Homo sapiens: one gene and its partners. The protein of the gene in region 2 purifies or fractionates together with the protein of the main gene of each other region. This does not show direct contact. Each region holds a gene or a part of one and is shown on either strand. Other genes may lie near its edges. The genes, in order: THOP1, DIS3L, EIF4E2 and EXOSC1.

Evidence for each region.
Region 1: the proteins of DIS3L (region 2) and THOP1 purify together in Homo sapiens (affinity purification with mass spectrometry, with the first as the bait; one large-scale study listed by BioGRID). This does not show direct contact.
Region 3: the proteins of DIS3L (region 2) and EIF4E2 purify together in Homo sapiens (affinity purification with mass spectrometry; 3 studies listed by BioGRID and IntAct, with this or other methods). This does not show direct contact.
Region 4: the proteins of DIS3L (region 2) and EXOSC1 purify together in Homo sapiens (affinity purification with mass spectrometry; 5 studies listed by BioGRID and IntAct, with this or other methods). This does not show direct contact.

The regions. Positions count from the first base shown.
Region 1 is NC_000019.10:2,794,858-2,799,436, forward strand, and holds part of THOP1 (thimet oligopeptidase), read left to right. Parts: coding exon 1-55; intron 56-1,223; coding exon 1,224-1,331; intron 1,332-4,579. UniProt on the Homo sapiens protein: Involved in the metabolism of neuropeptides under 20 amino acid residues long. Involved in cytoplasmic peptide degradation. Able to degrade the amyloid-beta precursor protein and generate amyloidogenic fragments.
Region 2 is NC_000015.10:66,328,068-66,331,567, reverse strand, and holds part of DIS3L (DIS3-like exonuclease 1), read right to left. Parts: intron 2,599-3,500; coding exon 2,444-2,598; intron 2,348-2,443; coding exon 2,169-2,347; intron 1,956-2,168; coding exon of another isoform or gene 1,944-1,955; exon of another isoform or gene 1-1,943. UniProt on the Homo sapiens protein: Catalytic component of the RNA exosome complex which has 3'->5' exoribonuclease activity and participates in a multitude of cellular RNA processing and degradation events.
Region 3 is NC_000002.12:232,563,692-232,568,270, forward strand, and holds part of EIF4E2 (eukaryotic translation initiation factor 4E type 2), read left to right. Parts: intron 1-555; coding exon 556-660; intron 661-3,137; coding exon 3,138-3,290; intron 3,291-3,386; coding exon 3,387-3,523; intron 3,524-4,579. UniProt on the Homo sapiens protein: Recognizes and binds the 7-methylguanosine-containing mRNA cap during an early step in the initiation. Acts as a repressor of translation initiation.
Region 4 is NC_000010.11:97,439,502-97,444,080, forward strand, and holds part of EXOSC1 (exosome complex component CSL4), read right to left. Parts: intron 3,811-4,579; coding exon 3,736-3,810; intron 1,759-3,735; coding exon 1,670-1,758; intron 1-1,669. UniProt on the Homo sapiens protein: Non-catalytic component of the RNA exosome complex which has 3'->5' exoribonuclease activity and participates in a multitude of cellular RNA processing and degradation events.

The DNA of each region.
Region 1 (4,579 bases), on a different chromosome or scaffold from region 2:
CGACGTGGAGATGAGCATGAGGGAGGACGTGTACCAGAGGATCGTGTGGCTCCAGGTGAGGGGGCCCTGCGGGGAGTGCAAATAGCCTCCCAAGTAACTAGGATTACAGGCGCCCGCCACCACACCCGGCTAATTTTTGTATTTTTAGTAGAGACGGGGTTTCAACGTGTTGGTCAGGCTAGTCTCGAACTCCTGACCTCAAGTGATCCGCCCACCTCGGCCTCCCACAGTGCTGGGATGACAGGTGTGAGCCACTGTGCCCGGCCCATTTTTTGTATTTTTAGTAGGCACAGGGTTTTGCCATGTTGGTCAGGCTGTTCTCAAACTCCTGACCTCAGGTGATCCGCCCGCCTTGGCCTCCCAAAGTGCTGGGATCACAGGCCTGAGCCACCACGCCCGGCCACACATGTGCACTTTCATTTCCTTTCCTGGCCATCCTAGTGTGACCCAAACACCCCATCCCCACATGGCGTGAGCTGGCAGGGCCTGGCGGCATGGCTGCGTGGGCTCCTGCTCCCCCGGATGCTCCTCGCAGTATGCAGTGGGGCCTTTGCTGTTGATGTCACATGATCAGGAGAGACCCAGAGACCCTCCTGCTGCTGTTCATCCTCTTAGGCGAGGACCCCTGGGAATGTGCTGATGTGTCCCACAGTCTCAGGATCATGCAGCCCTAGTGCTTTGGTAAATCCAGATCAGGGTGACCCATGATAGCCGTGGATTGTTATTTCTTTTTATTTAAATACAGACAGGGTCTCACAACGTTGCCCACGCTTGTCTCGAACTCCTGGGCCCACGCAATCCTCCCACCTCCACTTTCCAGAGTTTCTGTTGAGACAATGAGAGGTTCCCATGCAGGTGCAGGAAAGAATCGAATGCCTTTGCCAACTTTGCCCAGGTCCCCAGTGATGACGTTTTGCAAAACTATGGTGTCATCTACACCCCGATACCGACCTGGAGACCACCAGCAATCTAATTCCCATTCAGCCATCGCACTGGTGAAGGAGCTCTGGACTGATGTCAGTGTGGGGCTCTTCCAAACAAAGCGAACGTTTGCACAGGTTTTATGTAGAGACAGGTCGTCATTTCTCTGAGATAAATGCCCAGGAGTGCAGTTGCCAAGTCACACGGGGGCCGGATGATCAGGTTTTTAAGAAACTGCCAAACTGCTCTTTGGAGCGGCTGCACTGGCCCACGTCCTACATGCTTTGATGTTTTTATTCCAGGAGAAAGTTCAGAAGGACTCACTGAGGCCCGAGGCTGCGCGGTACCTGGAGCGGCTAATCAAGCTGGGCCGGAGAAATGGGCTTCACCTCCCCAGAGAGACTCAGGAAGTGAGTGCTGGGTGTAGGGAGTGCTGGGCGTGGGCAATGGTCGATCCCGGGGAGTGCTGGGCACAGGGAGTGCTCAGTCCCAGGGAGTGGTGGGAGCAAGAAGCGCAGGGCAGGGGGAGTGCTGGGCTCGGGGAGTGCTCGGCTCAGGGAGTGCTTGGGGCATCAGGAGTGCTGGGTTCAGGGAGTGCTGCGTCCCGGGGAGTGCTGGACTCAGGGAGTGCTTGGGCACAGGGAGTGCTGGGTGCCGGGAGTGCTGGGTGTGAGGAGTGCTCGGTCCCAGGGAGCACTGGGCATGGGGAGTACTGAGCTCAGGGAGTGCTTGGGCTTGGGGAGTGCTGGGTGGGGGGAGTGCTCGGTCCCAGGGAGTACTGGGTGTGGGGAGTGCTCAGTCTGGGGAGTACTCGGCATGGGGAGTACTGGGCACGGGGAGTGCTCAGTCCTGGGGAGTGCTCAGTTGCGGGGAGTGCTGGGCTCAGGGAGTACTGGGTGCGGGGAGTGCTGGGCGTGGCCAGTGGAGCTTCTGTGGCCCCCTGCCCCTGCCTCCTCGGGAGCGTCCCCCCTTCAGGGCTGACCCCCGGCCTGATGTCCATCTTTCTTCTGCCTGAGGACCTGAACTCTGGCAAGGCAGGTCCACACAGACATGGGGCGCAGAGGCTCGGTAACGAGGGGAGCCCCTCCACCCACTGCCCGGTGTGCCTGATGTGGGCGTCTCAGGGGTGACATGAGTTAGTTGGTGCAGAGCTGGGAGCGCAGCGCTGAAGTCAAGCGTAGTGTGTTAGCAGAAGCCCAGTGTTCAGCGGCACCAACAGAGCAGTGGCGACCGCCACTGGAAAGATGCGTGTCACAGTTCCCAGGAACTGGCAGCTCGCCACATGGGAAGCATGGCTGGGTCAGGAGGTGTGCTCTGGGCAGGGCCTTCGCTGGGGTCCCTTGTGAAGGCATGGGTGTAGCGGGGAGTGGGCTCAGGGTTGGCCGGCTGGACCATCTCAGCCAGCCCTGGCATGGGGGCTGCCCCTCATCGGGTGCCTGGCCCTAGGGTAATGGGGGCCGGTGGATGGTGCCCCAGAGTGTAGGGGCTCGAGACTAGTTGATTTGCACGTGAAAGATGTTTGCAGGCGAGCTGTTGGCTGTCTCTGGGAGGGGCCATTTCTCGAGGGCCAGCAAGGCACCCAAATGTCAAAGCATCAGAATACAGGCCCCTGATTCACCATGGTGTGTGTTCAGTAGAAACCGTGCTTGGAATGCTGATCTTTCCGAGGCCGGCCACTTGGGCACTTGCTGTCCTGTGACGCTGGGCGCCAGCCACAGCTACCAGCTAGCCTGCAATGACGCAGGCAAACTGAAAACCGAAGTTACATGAGATACCCAACACCTCATATCCGATAGCCTTTGCCTTCGGCGATCTCACCAGAATGTGGGCTGCTGTGAGTTCCTGAGCACGCTTAAGACAGGCCAGGTTAAGCTGTGATGTTCGCTCCTATTAAATGCATTTGTGATTTATGATATTCACAACTCACGATGGGATTATTGGGACATACCCCTGTCCTAAGTCAGGGAGCATCTGTACAGGAAAGAAAGCACACAGTTCAATCAGGTCCCAGGCTGCAGCCATAGCCCCATGGCTGTCCCTGTTCCGGTTCCATAAAGCCACCGCTGTCCTGGTTAGGGGGCGTCTCCACCTTATGGCTGAGGCAACCAAGACTCAGAGAGGCCAGGTGGGTTTGTCAGTGAAACCAGCACTGACGAAAGCGGAGTCAGGGTCCGTCTCAGTACTCGGGGACTGGGGGTCCTCAGCTCAGCCGCAGCGGACAAGAGCCAGTTATTTTTATTTTTATTTATGCATTTATTTATTTATTTAGACAGGGAGTCACACTCTGTCTCCCAGGCTGGAGTGCAACGGTGTGATCTCAGCTCGCTGCAACCTCTGCCTCCTATGTTCAAGCGATTCTCCTGCCTCAGCCTCTGGAGTAGCTGGGATTACGGGCACCCGCCAACACAGCTGGCTAATTTTTTTTTATTTTTGATAGAGACAGGGTTTTACCACATTGGCCAGGCTGGTCTCAAACTCCTAACCTCAAGTGATTCACCCGCCTTGGCCTCCCAAACTGCTGGGATTACGGGTGTGAGCCACTGTACCACAGTTATTTTTAAAACCCCTTCGGCTTGTTGCATGCCCAGCATGTGTGGCCATGTGCATGGTAGAAGCCACAAACTCTCCCACAAGGGCCAGCAAGCAAGGAGGGAGCAGAGGCAGCCCCGCCTGGAGGACAGAAGCGCGGAAAAGGTGCGAGGTCCGGATGCTGGCGAGCAGAGTTCCAGCGCGTCCCCGCGGCCCTTAGGGCCAGCGCTGTGTGCTCATTGAGTCTCCAGAGCCTTCCCTGGCATGGCTGGGTTTGTTATGTGAGATGGCAAGAGGGGGAGACATTGGGAATTGCCCAGCATGGGGCCTGTTCCCAGGAGAGGCCCAGCAAACCCTCAGCTGGTTCTGAACCAGGGCCTTCCTGACAAGATACAGGCTCCCTGCAAAGTCCTGGGCACAGTTTCCCCCTGCTGCCGCCCTCTGTCCTGCGGATGAGCATTTCTGCTCTGGCCCCATGGAGCTGGGCTCCAGACCCGCCTGGCGGAGCTTCCAGCAGGAGAATCTGAGTCAAAGTACAGCCCTGCTGCCAGCCTGTCATGTGTCATGTGGCCTCAAGCCAGGTCCTTGTCACATAGTGGTCACCTCCCAGCCTTCAAGGCCACCAGAGGGACCACTCAAGATTCAGTTCCTTTGTTGATATCCCATATCACCAGGGTCGAGTTTTAGCTGTTTCTAAAACCAGCTTTACCAGATAAGGGGTAAAATGTTCAAAAGCTGCCAGACACGGTGACTCATGCCTGTAATCCCAGCACTTTGGGAGGCTGAGGTGGGAGGATTGCTTGAGCCCAGGAGTTCGAAACCAGCCTGAGCAACATGGTGAAACCCCGTCTGTACCAAACATACAAAAATTAGCTGGGTGTAGTGGCGTGTACCTGTAGTCCTAGCTACTCAGGAGGCTAAGGCAGGAGGATCAATTGAGTTGGGAGGTTGAGGCTGCAGTGAGTCGAGATCATGCCACTGCATTCCAGCCTGGGCAACAGAGCGAGTCCCTGTCTCAGAAGAATGTTGAAAAGCTTAGGCTGCAGGCTCTGAAGGTGATTCCTTAATGGATAGGAGGGTCTGGAGCACTCTTGGCCAGGGCCACACCTGACAGACCGGAGCACATCCC
Region 2 (3,500 bases):
TTTTTTTTTTTGAGATATGGAGTCTCACTCTGTCACCCAGGCTGGAGTACAGTGGTGCAATCTCGGCTCACTGCAAGCTCTACCTCCTGGGTTCACGTCATTCTCCTGCCTCAGCCTCTGGAGTAGCTGGGACTACAGGCGCCTGCCATCACGCCCGGGTAATTTTTTGTATTTTTAGTAGAAATGGGGTTTCACTGTGTTAGCCAGGATGGTCTTGATCTCCTGACCTCGTGATCCGCCTGCCTCGGCCTCCCAAAGTGCTGGGATTACAGGCATGAGCCACCGCGCCCGGCCAGCCTTTCTTTCTTTTCAAGCCTGTCCAATGAAAACCCTATTGGTGGAAGTCTAAATTAGCACTACTGATAAGGAAGACAATTTAGTAATATGTATTAAAGTTTCTTTGTCTTCTTTTTGAGATGGAGTCTCACTCTATCGCCTAGGCTGGAGTGCAATGGCGCGATCTTGGCTCCCTGCAACCTCTGCCTCCCGGGTTCAAGTGATTCTCCTGCCTCAGCCGCCCGATTAGCTGGGATTACAGGCATGCACCACCATGCCTGGCTAATTTTTGTATTTTTAGTAGTAACGGGGTTTCACCATGTTGGCCAGGCTGCTCTGGAACTCCTGAACTCAGGTGATCCACCGGCCTCGACCTCGAAAAGTGCTAGGATTACAGTCGTGAGCCACTGCACCTGACCTATCAGTTTCATTTGTGCATGCACACCTTTTGGCTCAGCAATTCCATTTCTAGGAATTTTTCCAGGAAATCATCTGAAATGTCTGTATAAGTGTATCCATAAGGATGGTTATAAATTTGATTGCTTAGAACAGTGCTGCCCAACAGAACTTTCTGCAATGATAGAAATGCTCTCTATCTGTGTTGCCTAATATGTAGCCACTAACCACAAGTGGCCACTGAGCTATACAATGTGGCCAGTGTGACTGAGACACTGGCCAAATTTCTACTGAGACAAATTTCTACTTCTAATTTTAATTAAATTTAGGTAGTCCACATGGCTAGTGCTACAACATTGCACAGCAGACAACTATACCATTGGATATAGAAAATTACATTAAACATTTAGGTAGTTTCCAATTTCCTGCGTTACCCAATAGTCTAGTTCTATGCTGTGCAATCTTGTAGCAACTAGTAATATGAAATAGAATAGAAAGCAGCTTCAAAACAATGATATAACATGGTGTGCTATCAATAACAGTTGGGTTACATGAAAAAAGCAGATTCAAACAGCAGGCACGGTGTGATTTTTTTTTTTTAGACGGAGTTTCGCTCTGTCACCCAGGCCAGAGTGCAGTGGTGCAATCTCAGCTCACTGCAAGCTCCGCCTCCCGGGTTCACACCATTCTCCTGCCTCAGCCTCCTGAGTAGCTGGGACTACAGGCGCCTGCCACCATGCTAATTTTTTGTATTTTTAGTAGAGATGGGGTTTCACTGTGTTAGCCCGGATGGTCTCGATCTCCTGACCTCGTGATCCACCTGCCTCAGCCTCCCAAAGTACTGGGAATACAGGTGCAAGCCACCGCATCTGGCCGATATTTTTATAAATAAAAATGTTAGCAGTGTCTAGAATCATTAATTGTTAGCTCTGGGTGGTAAGATAACAGGTGATGTTTCTGTCTTCATATCTTTTTTTTTTTTTGAGACACAGTCTCAATTTTGTCACCCAGGCTAGAGTGCAGTGGTGTGATCTCGGCCCACTGCAATCTCCACCTCCTGGGTTCAAGAGATTCTCCTGCCTCAGCCTCCCAAGTAACTGGGACTACAGGCGCGTGCCATCACACCCGGCTAATTTTTGTATTTTTTGTAGAGATGGGGTTTCACCATATTGGCCAGGCTGGTCTCAAATTCCTGACCTCAAGTGATCCGCCCTCAAGTGAGCCACCACGTCTGGCCTCTGTCATCATATCTTTATGCGTTGCTTGAATCTTTACATTTCCACCTTTCGGAAAAAAAAAAATCTGATAATCTACCGTCAAATCTCCCAAATCCACAAGTTACCTGAGAACATCTACAAATGTTCTGAAAGCACTGGTTAGAATAATTCTAGAATTTAATTTGCTAGAATATATGATACTTCACGGTACTACACAATAAAGCTGATATTTTCTTAGCAAGAGATGACAGGTAAGAGAATTTTGAAATTCCCTCTTACTTGGTTTCTGTTGTTGATATGTCTGCATAATTCCTCAAGATCTTTGTTGCTGAACAGATTTCCCTTAATTTCCATTTTCTTATCTTTTGAAATGGCTGCCATTAACAAGCGGTGTACTACAATATCTGAATATCTTCTTATTGGAGAAGTAAAGTGGGTATATTTATCTAATGCAAGACCTTCAAAAAGAAAGCAAAAGATCAAAATAAACAAAAACTATTTTAAAATAACTAGCGCAAAGTTACAGCCACACATAGGAATATGGTATGATTCACCGTAATGATGGAACTCCTCCTCCGCACAGGATCCGGTGGAGAAGTACAGAGCATTCGACATGGCCTGCGTGGCCATGGAGCGCAGTAGCCTGTTCACAATGGGATCGTGGGGGTCGTTCGCATTATCCAGAGAATCAGCCAGTGTTTTATTGGACCTGACAAAGAACAGAAAAACCGTTAGCTAGTCCCAGACAGTAATTTACAAGACAACACTTTGAGGGGAACCCTTCACTCATCCGTCTGAATACCTTCATCTGCCAGTAAATTTGTTTTGGACACGTTTCAGAAGCACCTCTTTTCAACTACAGAAATCTAGTTTGCTTTACGGCTTAAACAAAACAAGAGTGTCAGAATTTAAATACATTTCTTAAGTAGAAATGAATCATGTACTGATTTTAATACTAGGTTAAGTTAGTGCTTGGCTATAATAGGTGGTCAAATACTCGTTGAATTGAATTCTTTACATCCTTAACCTTAAACATTCTATATATAGGTAAAATAATGGACTTGGTGTACAAGTAAAAGAAACCTAAATTAGTTTTTCTTTTTTAAAGAGGTAGTAAGCATTCTATTTATTTATTCTCAAAATAATTTTTTTGTAGAGACAGGGTCTCACTTTGTTGCCCAGGCTAGTCTTGAACTCCTGGCCTTCAGTGATCCTCCTGCCTCGGCCTCCCAAAGTGCTGGGGTTACAGGTGTGAGCCACTGCATACAGCCTCAAAATAATAATTTCAAAGCCCCAGGAAATATAGAGGTATATTAAAAATAAAACTAATAACATATAATTCAGTCCTATATTGTGGCTGGCTAAGGGAAAAGGGGGAAAGGAGAAATAGAGCATGATGATGAACAGAGAGGCAAGGTGTTAAGTGGTCACTATGTGAGCTTGCAAGTTTAACAGACTTGGATTCAAATCTTGGCTCTGCCCTGACTGTTAAATTACAGGCAAATTACTTAATCTCTTCAGACTTAATTGACTTATCTGTAAATATGAATGATGCTGCCATCACCTCAGCATTAAGAATTAACCAAGAGGATGTCTGAAAGCCCTTGTCCC
Region 3 (4,579 bases), on a different chromosome or scaffold from region 2:
GGTCTAAGAGGTATTTACATGTGGTTGATTCTATCACTTATGCTTACTAACTAAACAGGTCTAAGAGGTATTTCATTCAGCAAATGCTATATTTGCCAGTTAAACAATCTTTCATCGGTAAGTGATTTGGTTCTAAAAAATGCATTCAGGCTGAGGCTGTGTGACACTTACATACCTCAAGGCTAAAGAGTTTCCATTGTGCAAAAACCTGGTCCTCTTACTGCATGTGATGACTACCCTGCAGCTTGAGTGGGAGAGTGCGTATTAACATGGTTTCACCAACTAAAGCTCCTGGCTGAGGCTTGCATTTCTCACCAAAGATTTTATTCTTGAATTGCGAATGTTACATTTTTTATTTTGTCAAACTAGATGGTATGTTTTTCCTCTAATATGTCTTCCCTCACAACACCACACATGAAAATGAGTCCTCTGAAAAGGACAGCCTGTAGTATAGTGTCTTCCATGCTTATGTTCTTAACTAAATCTCAACCTTGGGATGCATTCAAAGAAAAGTAAAAGACACATGTTTTTTACTCTGGGGTCTTCTCTCTGCAGGTGGAGCAGTTCTGGAGGTTTTATAGCCACATGGTACGTCCTGGGGACCTGACAGGCCACAGTGACTTCCATCTCTTCAAAGAAGGAATTAAACCCATGTGGGAGGTAAGGACTAATGGCTTCTGACTGCTTTTTTGAGCAAGTTTGGGTTTTTTTGTTTTGTCTCTTAGCCCTGCCAAGGTTAAAAGTATTTTATTTTATTTTATTTTATTTTATTTTATTTGAGACGGAGTGTCGCTCTGTCACCCAGGCTGAGCGCAGTGGCGCGATCTCGGCTCACTGCAAGCTCCGCCTCCCAGGTTCACGCCATTCTCTTGCCTCAGCCTCCCTAGTAGCTGGGACTACAGGCGCCCACCACCGCGCCCGGCTAATTTTTTGTGTTTTTTAGTAGAGACGGAGTTTCACCGTGTTAGCCAGGATGGTCTCGATCTCCTGACCTCGTGATCCGCCCGCCTTGGACTCCCAAAATGCTGGGATTACAGGCGTGAGCCACCGTGCCCAGCTGGTTAAAAGTGTTTTAAAGTCTCTCAAAACTGCATCACTCTCCAGTATATCCTTGGAACCCGAGCCTCTAGAGAAATGCACTGATGCCATTTTTTGTCTGTGTGGGTTGGTGCTGGGTGTTTTTTAAAGACTGTTTTATGACTAAAATGGTATTAGAACATTAAAGGATTTTTGTTTTCAGTTACCTTTATCCTTATAGAACTTGTTTGTGCGTGTGTGTAATATTTTTACATAGTACACATATGATTAAAGTGGGTAAGAAAATAAGTTTAAAGGCAGGAACTGGAGACCTAGAACTTTGCAGAGCCAGTATTCGGCTGCGCCCTGGTGTAGTGCATCTTCTATTCTGGTGCCATGGCATTTTTCGAGAAGACAAATGTGGTCACATCCACGCCACCCATCTTATACAGCTCCTCATTGCTCACATGATCTTGCACCTCATTTACCTTTCAAGCCTCATCTCCCATCATCTCTAAATCTTCCCTTCCCTGCAGGTGGACCCTCCTGTCAGTTTATGCACAGACATGTTCTTCCCAGTGCCCGCAGTGCCCTTCAGCTGCTTTTCCTGACTCACTCCCGTTGACCTTAAGACCCACTTCTTGGCAGGGCATGGTGGCCCATGCCTGTAATCCCAGCACTTTGGGAGGTCGAGGTGGACAGATCACCTGAGGTCAGGAGTTTGAGGCCAGCCTGGCCAACATGGTGAAACCCCGTCTCTACTAAAAATACAAAAATTAGCCAGGTGTGGTGGCACGCGCCTGTAATCCCAGCTACTCGGGAGGCTGAGACAGGAGACTCACTTGAACCCAGGAGGTGGAGGTTGCACTGAGCCAAGATTGTGCCACTGCACTCCAGCCTGGGTGACAGAGCGAGACTCCATCTCAAAAAAAGAAAAGAAAAAAAAAGACCCACTTCTTGACTGTTTCCAACTATCTTGTTCTTCCTTAACATAGTGTGCATATCTGTTAACAGCAGCACTTATAATTATAGTATCATTGCTGTAATTAATATCCTTGGCTGTCTCTTCTACTGGACTGGATCTGAGTAGAGATTGGGGCTTCAGCCAGGCGCAGTGGCTCACTCCTGTAATCCCAGCACTTTGGGAATCCGAGGCAGACAGATCACGAGGTCAAGGGTTCGAGACCAGCCTGGCCAATATGGTGAAACCCTGTCTCTACTAAAAATACAATAATTAGCCGGGTGTGGTGGCATGTGCCTGTAGTCCCAGCTACCCAGGAGGCAGAGACAGGAGAATCGCTTGAACCCAAGAGGCAGAAGTGGCAGTGAGCCGATATCGCACCACTGCACTCCAGACTGGGTGACAGCGGGAGACTCCATCGCAAAAAAGAAAAAAAAAAAAACTAGATTGGGGCTTCATGTCTGTGTACTTGGTATGTAGTGACAGTCAGTACTTTTTTTTGTCGTCGTTGTTGTTTTGTTTTGTTTTGTTTTTTGAGACGGAGTCTTGCTGTGTTTCCCAGGCGGGAGTGCAGTGGCACGATCTCGGCTCCCTGCAAGCTCTGCCTCCCGAGTTCACGCCATTCTCCCGCCTCAGCCTCCCGAGTAGCTGGGACTACAGGCGCCCACCACCATGCCCGGCTAATTTTGTTTTTGTATTTTTAGTAGAGACGCGGTTTCACCGTGTCAGCCAGGATGGTCTCGATCTCCTCACCTCGTGATTCGCCCACCTCAGCCTTCCAAAGTGTTGGGATTACGGGCGTGAGCCACTGCGCCCAGCAGACATTCAGTACTTTTAGCAAGTAAACGGATGATCTGTGCTTGAAATATGACATCATTTCGTTTTGATTCCTAAAGTATTTCCAGTAAAGGGGATTATTTTTAAAAGGTCTGTTTAGCCATTTTAATAAATGGCTTATGCCAAGGATCCCAGCCTTGTTTTTCTTTTTTTCCCCATTTCTTCTCTCCCTAGTCCTACCATCAGTTTTTCTATAGAGTTGAATAATTGGAAAGTGATATGACTTCTTAGTGTTTAAGAGATTCTTGGCTTTTTACTGCCTTCATACAAAAAAAGGCTGTGAAACCATATTTTAACTTCAGTGCTTTCTGTCTTTTTACAGGATGATGCAAATAAAAATGGTGGCAAGTGGATTATTCGGCTGCGGAAGGGCTTGGCCTCCCGTTGCTGGGAGAATCTCATTTTGGCCATGCTGGGGGAACAGTTCATGGTTGGGGAGGAGATCTGTGGGGCTGTGGTGTCTGTCCGCTTTCAGGTAAGCCACCCATGAGCCAGGCTGGTTTCTTGTGTTGCCTTTGCTCTCCTCGCTGCCCCTGATTTGCTTTGATGATTCCTTCTGTTCCTCTGGTAGGAAGACATTATTTCAATATGGAATAAGACTGCCAGTGACCAAGCAACCACAGCCCGAATCCGGGACACACTTCGGCGAGTGCTTAACCTACCTCCCAACACCATTATGGAATACAAAACTCACACCGACAGCATCAAGTACGTGTTGGGGGGTTATGGGAGGACGTGTCCCTAAGCTTAGTATAAGTAGATCTGTAGTTGGGCCCAGAGGAATATGGCCGGACAGGAGACTTACTTGTGGAGAAGGGACAGACCAGGCCTTCCCTCTAGGGCTTCTGGCTACTTGCTGCAGTTCTTTGTCAGCGAGGCTCCCTGCCACCTATACTACCAGGTGCTTTGTAGCAGAGAGAGCCCATCTGCAGAAACCCAGTTGTACTACCTGGGCTTGCTTAATTTCTACAGGCTGTCTTGTCTTTCATATGCTAACCACTATCTTAAAATGAAAGACAAGTGCTTTTCTTTTTCTTGCTGTTTTTTAAGATAATTTCACCCTGCCCACCCTCACCCCACTTCTGCATGTCTTTTTAACTTGTTAGCTTCAGTCTATTTTCTTTGTCCTGGGATACTGACTACTTATCAGGAATGACTCCATTTCCTTGTGTATAGAGCTGACTCTTAGAAGAAGGGGGATAGTGTGTGTGTGAGAGAGCAGAATCAAAGGGAAGCATGAAGGCCACAGGGAAAATAAGCTTGGCAATCTCCCTAGGACTCAGGGAAATAGAGCTCTCTGTCCACAGTGAGAATCACTGTTAGGCTTGCTCCTCAGTGATTGAGTGTCAGAAGTAAGCTCAGGCTATTGTGAAAAAGTGTGGGGAGTGGCTGTCAGATTGTCTCAAAGCTGGAGGGAGAGCTAGCCAGCTAAGAGTTAGGACTCTTAGGTTTAGTTCTCTCATATGGCCCCATACCAATATGTGCCTTTGACAAGTGTCTTTGCAACTTTGCTTCAGTTTCTCCATCTGTAAAGTGGGAGACAGTACTTTATCTAACAAGGCTATTGTGAGGCTGATTTAATCTTTAACTGAGGGTCTTCAGATGGAGAATGCTTTTACGGGGCCAAGTAGTAGTATTGCTATCATCATCATCATCATTAGTAAGAATATCATCATGTTGTTATTATTGAAGGCTAGTAGTGAGCCCAGCAATTATGTTCAGCAGACAGACCATTTGGGAATCTCTTTCCCATGCATTCATAGA
Region 4 (4,579 bases), on a different chromosome or scaffold from region 2:
AGAATCTAATGCCTGATGATCTGTCACTGTCTCCCATCACCCCCAGATGGGACCATCGAATTGCAGGGAAACAAACTCAGGGCTCCCGCTGATTCTATATTATGGTGAGCTGTATAATTATTTCATTATATATTACAGTGTAATAATAACAGAAATAAAGTGCACCATAAATGTAATGCACTTGAATCATTCTGCAACCACCCCCTCCATGGTCTGTGGAAAAACTGTCTTCCAAGAAACTGGTCCCTGGTGCCAAAAAGGTTGGGGACTGCTGCACTACAGAACCACATCAAATCCTGAGGCTGGAAAGGGCCTCAAAAGTTAGATTATCTGCCTGGCAAGAAATGTTTGTCCTTTCTCAAGGAAGCCACACGAAATCACCATCTCACCCACAAATCTTTTCAATGTTTTATAACCTCTGAGTTCAATCTATATTAAATTTTAAAGTGCTTCCTAAAATGCCTTCTACTTTTTTTTTTTTTTTTTTTGAGACGGAGTTTCACTCTTGTTGCCCAGGCTGGAGTACAATGGCACGATCTTGGCTCACCGCAAGCTCCGCCTCCCAGGTTCAAGTGATTCTCCTGCCTCAGCCTCCCTAGTAGCTGGGATTATAGGCATGTGCCACCACGCCTGGCTAATTTTGTATTTTTAGTAGAGACGGTGTTTCTCCATGTTGGTCAGGCTGGTCTCGAACTCCCGACCTCAGGTGATCCGCCCGCCTCGGCCTCCCAAAGTGCTGGGATTACAGGCATGAGCCACCACGCCCAGCCTGCCTTCTACTTTGGTTTGAGTCATCCTGACACTGCTAAACTTCAGCTTCACTCAATTCTTTTTGCTTTACCTTTTATTTATTTATTTGTTTTTTGAGACAGGGTCTCACTCTGTTGCCCAGGCTAGAGTGCAGTGGTGCAATCTCAGCTCACTGCAACCTCTGCCTCCTAGGCTCAAGTGATCTTCCTGCTTCAGCTCCACAAGTAGCTGGGAGTACAGGCACGCACCACCATGCCCAGCTAATTTTTTTTTTTTTTTTTTTTAAAGACAGAGTCTCGCTCTGTCCCCCAGGCTGGAGTGCAATGGCGCAATCTTGGCTCACTGCAACCTCTGCCTCCTGGGTTCAAGCGATTCTTTGGCTTCAGCCTCCTGAGCAGCTGGGATTACAGGCACACGCCAACATGTCCGGCTAGTTTTTGTATTTTTAGTAGAGACAGGGTTTCACCACACTGGCCAGGCTGGTCTCAAACCCCTGACTTTGTGATCCACCCACCTCAGCCTCCCAAAGTGATAGGATTACAGGTGTGAGCCACTGTGCCTGGCTAATTTTTGTATTTTTTACAGAGATGGGGTTTCACCATGTTGGCTAGGCTGGTCTCAAACTCCTGATCTCAAGAGATCCACCCGCCTCAGCTTCTCAAAGTGCTAGGATAACAGGCGTGAGCCACCGCGCCCAGCCTTTGCTTTACTTTTAAACCCTCTCGTTAATATTTTCCTTTTGTCCTAGATCATCCATGTATTTTTTGGATACTACTAGGGGAGAATCAAAGCACAAAGAAGAAAGAAAAACGGGCAAAAGAAAAATAGGAATTGTAACTGTTGCTCAAAATTCTGGTGTCCTAGTCTATCCTAATCTTATTCCAGTTGCTAAGGTATATGTGAAAAGGATACTTCTTACCGGATAGTTCCTCGAAAAGAGTTCTTAAGAGGCATGGACCCCACATACAGGATGTGTACTTTGGCAAAGCGTGAATTGATGCTAGAGACCTGCGGAATAGAGAAAAGATCAGCATCAGAGTATAAGCAGTTGTCAGCTCAAGGAGGCAGCAATAAACTGGGGATTACTAGGGCTTCAGTGCAAGCAACCCTACTAAGTAGAGAATTTAAGACAAATTAACTCCTACTTCTCTCTGCGTAAGTGACACATGTAAAGAGGAATAAGAGCCACTCTGGCCACCTGGTAGAGTTACTATGGGAAACAAAGGTGGTATGGGTTTTTTTTTTTTTTTTTTTTTGAGACGGAGTTTCACTCTTGTTGCCCAGGCTGGAGTGCAATGGCGCGATCTTGGCTCACCGCAACCTCCGCCTCCTGGGTTCAAATAATTCTCCTGCCTTAGCCTCCTGAATAGCTGGGATTACAGGCATGCACCACCATGCCCAGCTAATTTTGTATTTCTAGTAGAGACAGGGTTTCTCCATGTTGGTCAGGCTGGTCTCGAACTCCTGATCTCAGGTGATTCGCCTGCTTCAGCCTCCCAAAGTGCTGGGATTACAGGTGTAAGCCACTGCATCCGGCTGGGTTTTTTTTTTTTTTTTTAAATCTTTTCACAACTTGCCCTTCAGAGAGGTATAGACTTTTTAAAGTATAGATGGCTAACAATTAAAAAAAAAAAAAAAAAAGAGGCTGGACACAGTGGCTCATGCCTGTAATCCCAGCACTTTGGGAGGCTGAGGTGGGCGCATCACTTGAGGTCAGGAGTTCAGGACCAGCCTGGCCAACATGGTAAAACCCCACCTGTACTAAAAATACAAAAATTAGCCAGGCGTGGCAGCACATGCCTATAATCCCAGCTACTCGGGAGGCAGAGGCAGTAGAATTGCTTGAACCCAAGAGGCCAGAGGCTGCAGTGAGCCGAGATCGTGCCACTGCACTCCAGCCTGGGTGACAGAGCAAGGCCCTGTCTCAAAAAAAAAAAAACAGGAATGGCAAAAAATAAAGTCTTTTGCTTCTCTGCAGAAAAAGAACTCAGCTTCAGATGTTCAAAAATAGGCCTCCTAATCATCCTCTGGCATCCCTGTTTCCCAGACACAGGTAGAACTATGTATTCAGGGAATCAGCTCAGTGAAGGAACTATGCATGCCTGAACTTGGCTGCCTTGATTATTATCCTAGAAATCTGTAAGCCTGCACAGTCCAGTAAAACTTTCTGTGATGACAGAAAAGTCATGTGCTGACCAGTATAGCAACCACTAGCCACAAGTGGCTATTGAGTACTTGAAATGTGGCTAATGTGACTAAGGAAATCAATTTTATTTTTTTCTTGAGAGACAGAGTCTTGCCCTGTTACCCAAGCTGGAGTGATCATGGCTCACTGCAGCCTCAACCCCCTGGGCCCAAGCGATCTTCCTGCTTCAGCCTCCCAAGTAGTTGGGACCACAAGCATGTGCTACCATGCCTGGCTAATTTTTTATTCTTCTTCTTCTTTTTTTTTGAGACGGAGTCTCACTCTGTTGCCCAGGCTGGACTGCTGTGACGCAGGCTCACTGCAACCTCCACCTCCTGGGTTCAAGCACTTCTCCTGCCTCAGCCTCCCGAGTAGCTGGGATTACAGGCATGCACCACCACGCTAAGCTAATTTTTGTATTTTTGGTAGAGACAGGGTTTCACCATGTTGGCCATGATTGGCCAGGCTGGTCTTGAACTCCTGACCACAGGTGATCTGCCCACCTCGGCCTCCCAAAGTGCTGGGATTACAAGCATGAGCCACCATGCCCGGCAATTTTTGATTCTTTTTGTAGAGATGAGGTTTCACTATGTTTCCCAGGCTGGTCTTGAACTCTGGGCTGAAGCAATCCTCCTGCCTCGGCCTCTTAAAGTGCTAGAATTACCAGTGTGAGCCACTGTGCCCTGCCAGAAATAAATTTATGTAGCTTGTGGCTATCATACTGGACACTGCAGTTCTGGTATGGTCATGATTTCAGTATTGAATGGGCATTCTAAGCATGGAGGTCAGGACCAACTTACCTTACAGGTTACAATAGCTCCCACATCTGGCAGTAACTGGGACTCTGTTTCTCTCACTACAGACACCACTGGAAGCTACAGAGGGAACAACAAAAAACTGAAATGTCCTGACTAACCCTTGGGTCAAGGCATTTGTGGCTTGAGAGTAATATAGGAATGTCTTGGTATAAAGGTGAGAGTTGGAGTATGGATTCATTTATAGCCCAGAGCAGAAGGCCTTAGAAATTTTAGGAAATAGGAGGACCAGGAGGCTACAGAATGCTGCTAGAAGACATACATCTCTAAACTTCTTTTTTTGTTGTTGGAGACGGAGTCTTGCTCTGTCGCCTAGACTGGAGTGCAGTGGCACGATCTCGGCTCACTGCAAGGTCCACTTCCCGGGTTCACGCCATTCTCCTGCCTCAGCCTCCCGAGTAGCTGGGACTACAGGCACCCGCCACCATGCCCAGCTACTTTTTTTTGTAGTAAATCTCTAAACTTCTAATAAGTTTTTTGGTGATTCTCTCAGAATTTCTTGGTATACAACTATATTGCCTATAATCATTGACAATTTTACTTTTTTTGTTTTTTTTTGAAATGGAGTTTCACTCTTGTTGCCTAGGATGGAGTGCAAGGGTGCCATCTTGGTTCACTGCAACCTCCACCTCCTGGGTTCAAGTGATTCTCCTGCCTCAGCCTCCCGAGTAGCTGGGATTACAGAAGCCTGTCACCATGCTCGGGTAATTTTTTGTATTTTTAGTAGAGATGGGGTTTCACCATGTTGGCCAGGCTGGTCTCGAACTCCTGACCTCAGGTGATCCACCTGCCTTGGCTTCCCAAAGTGCTGGGATTACAGGTGTGAGCC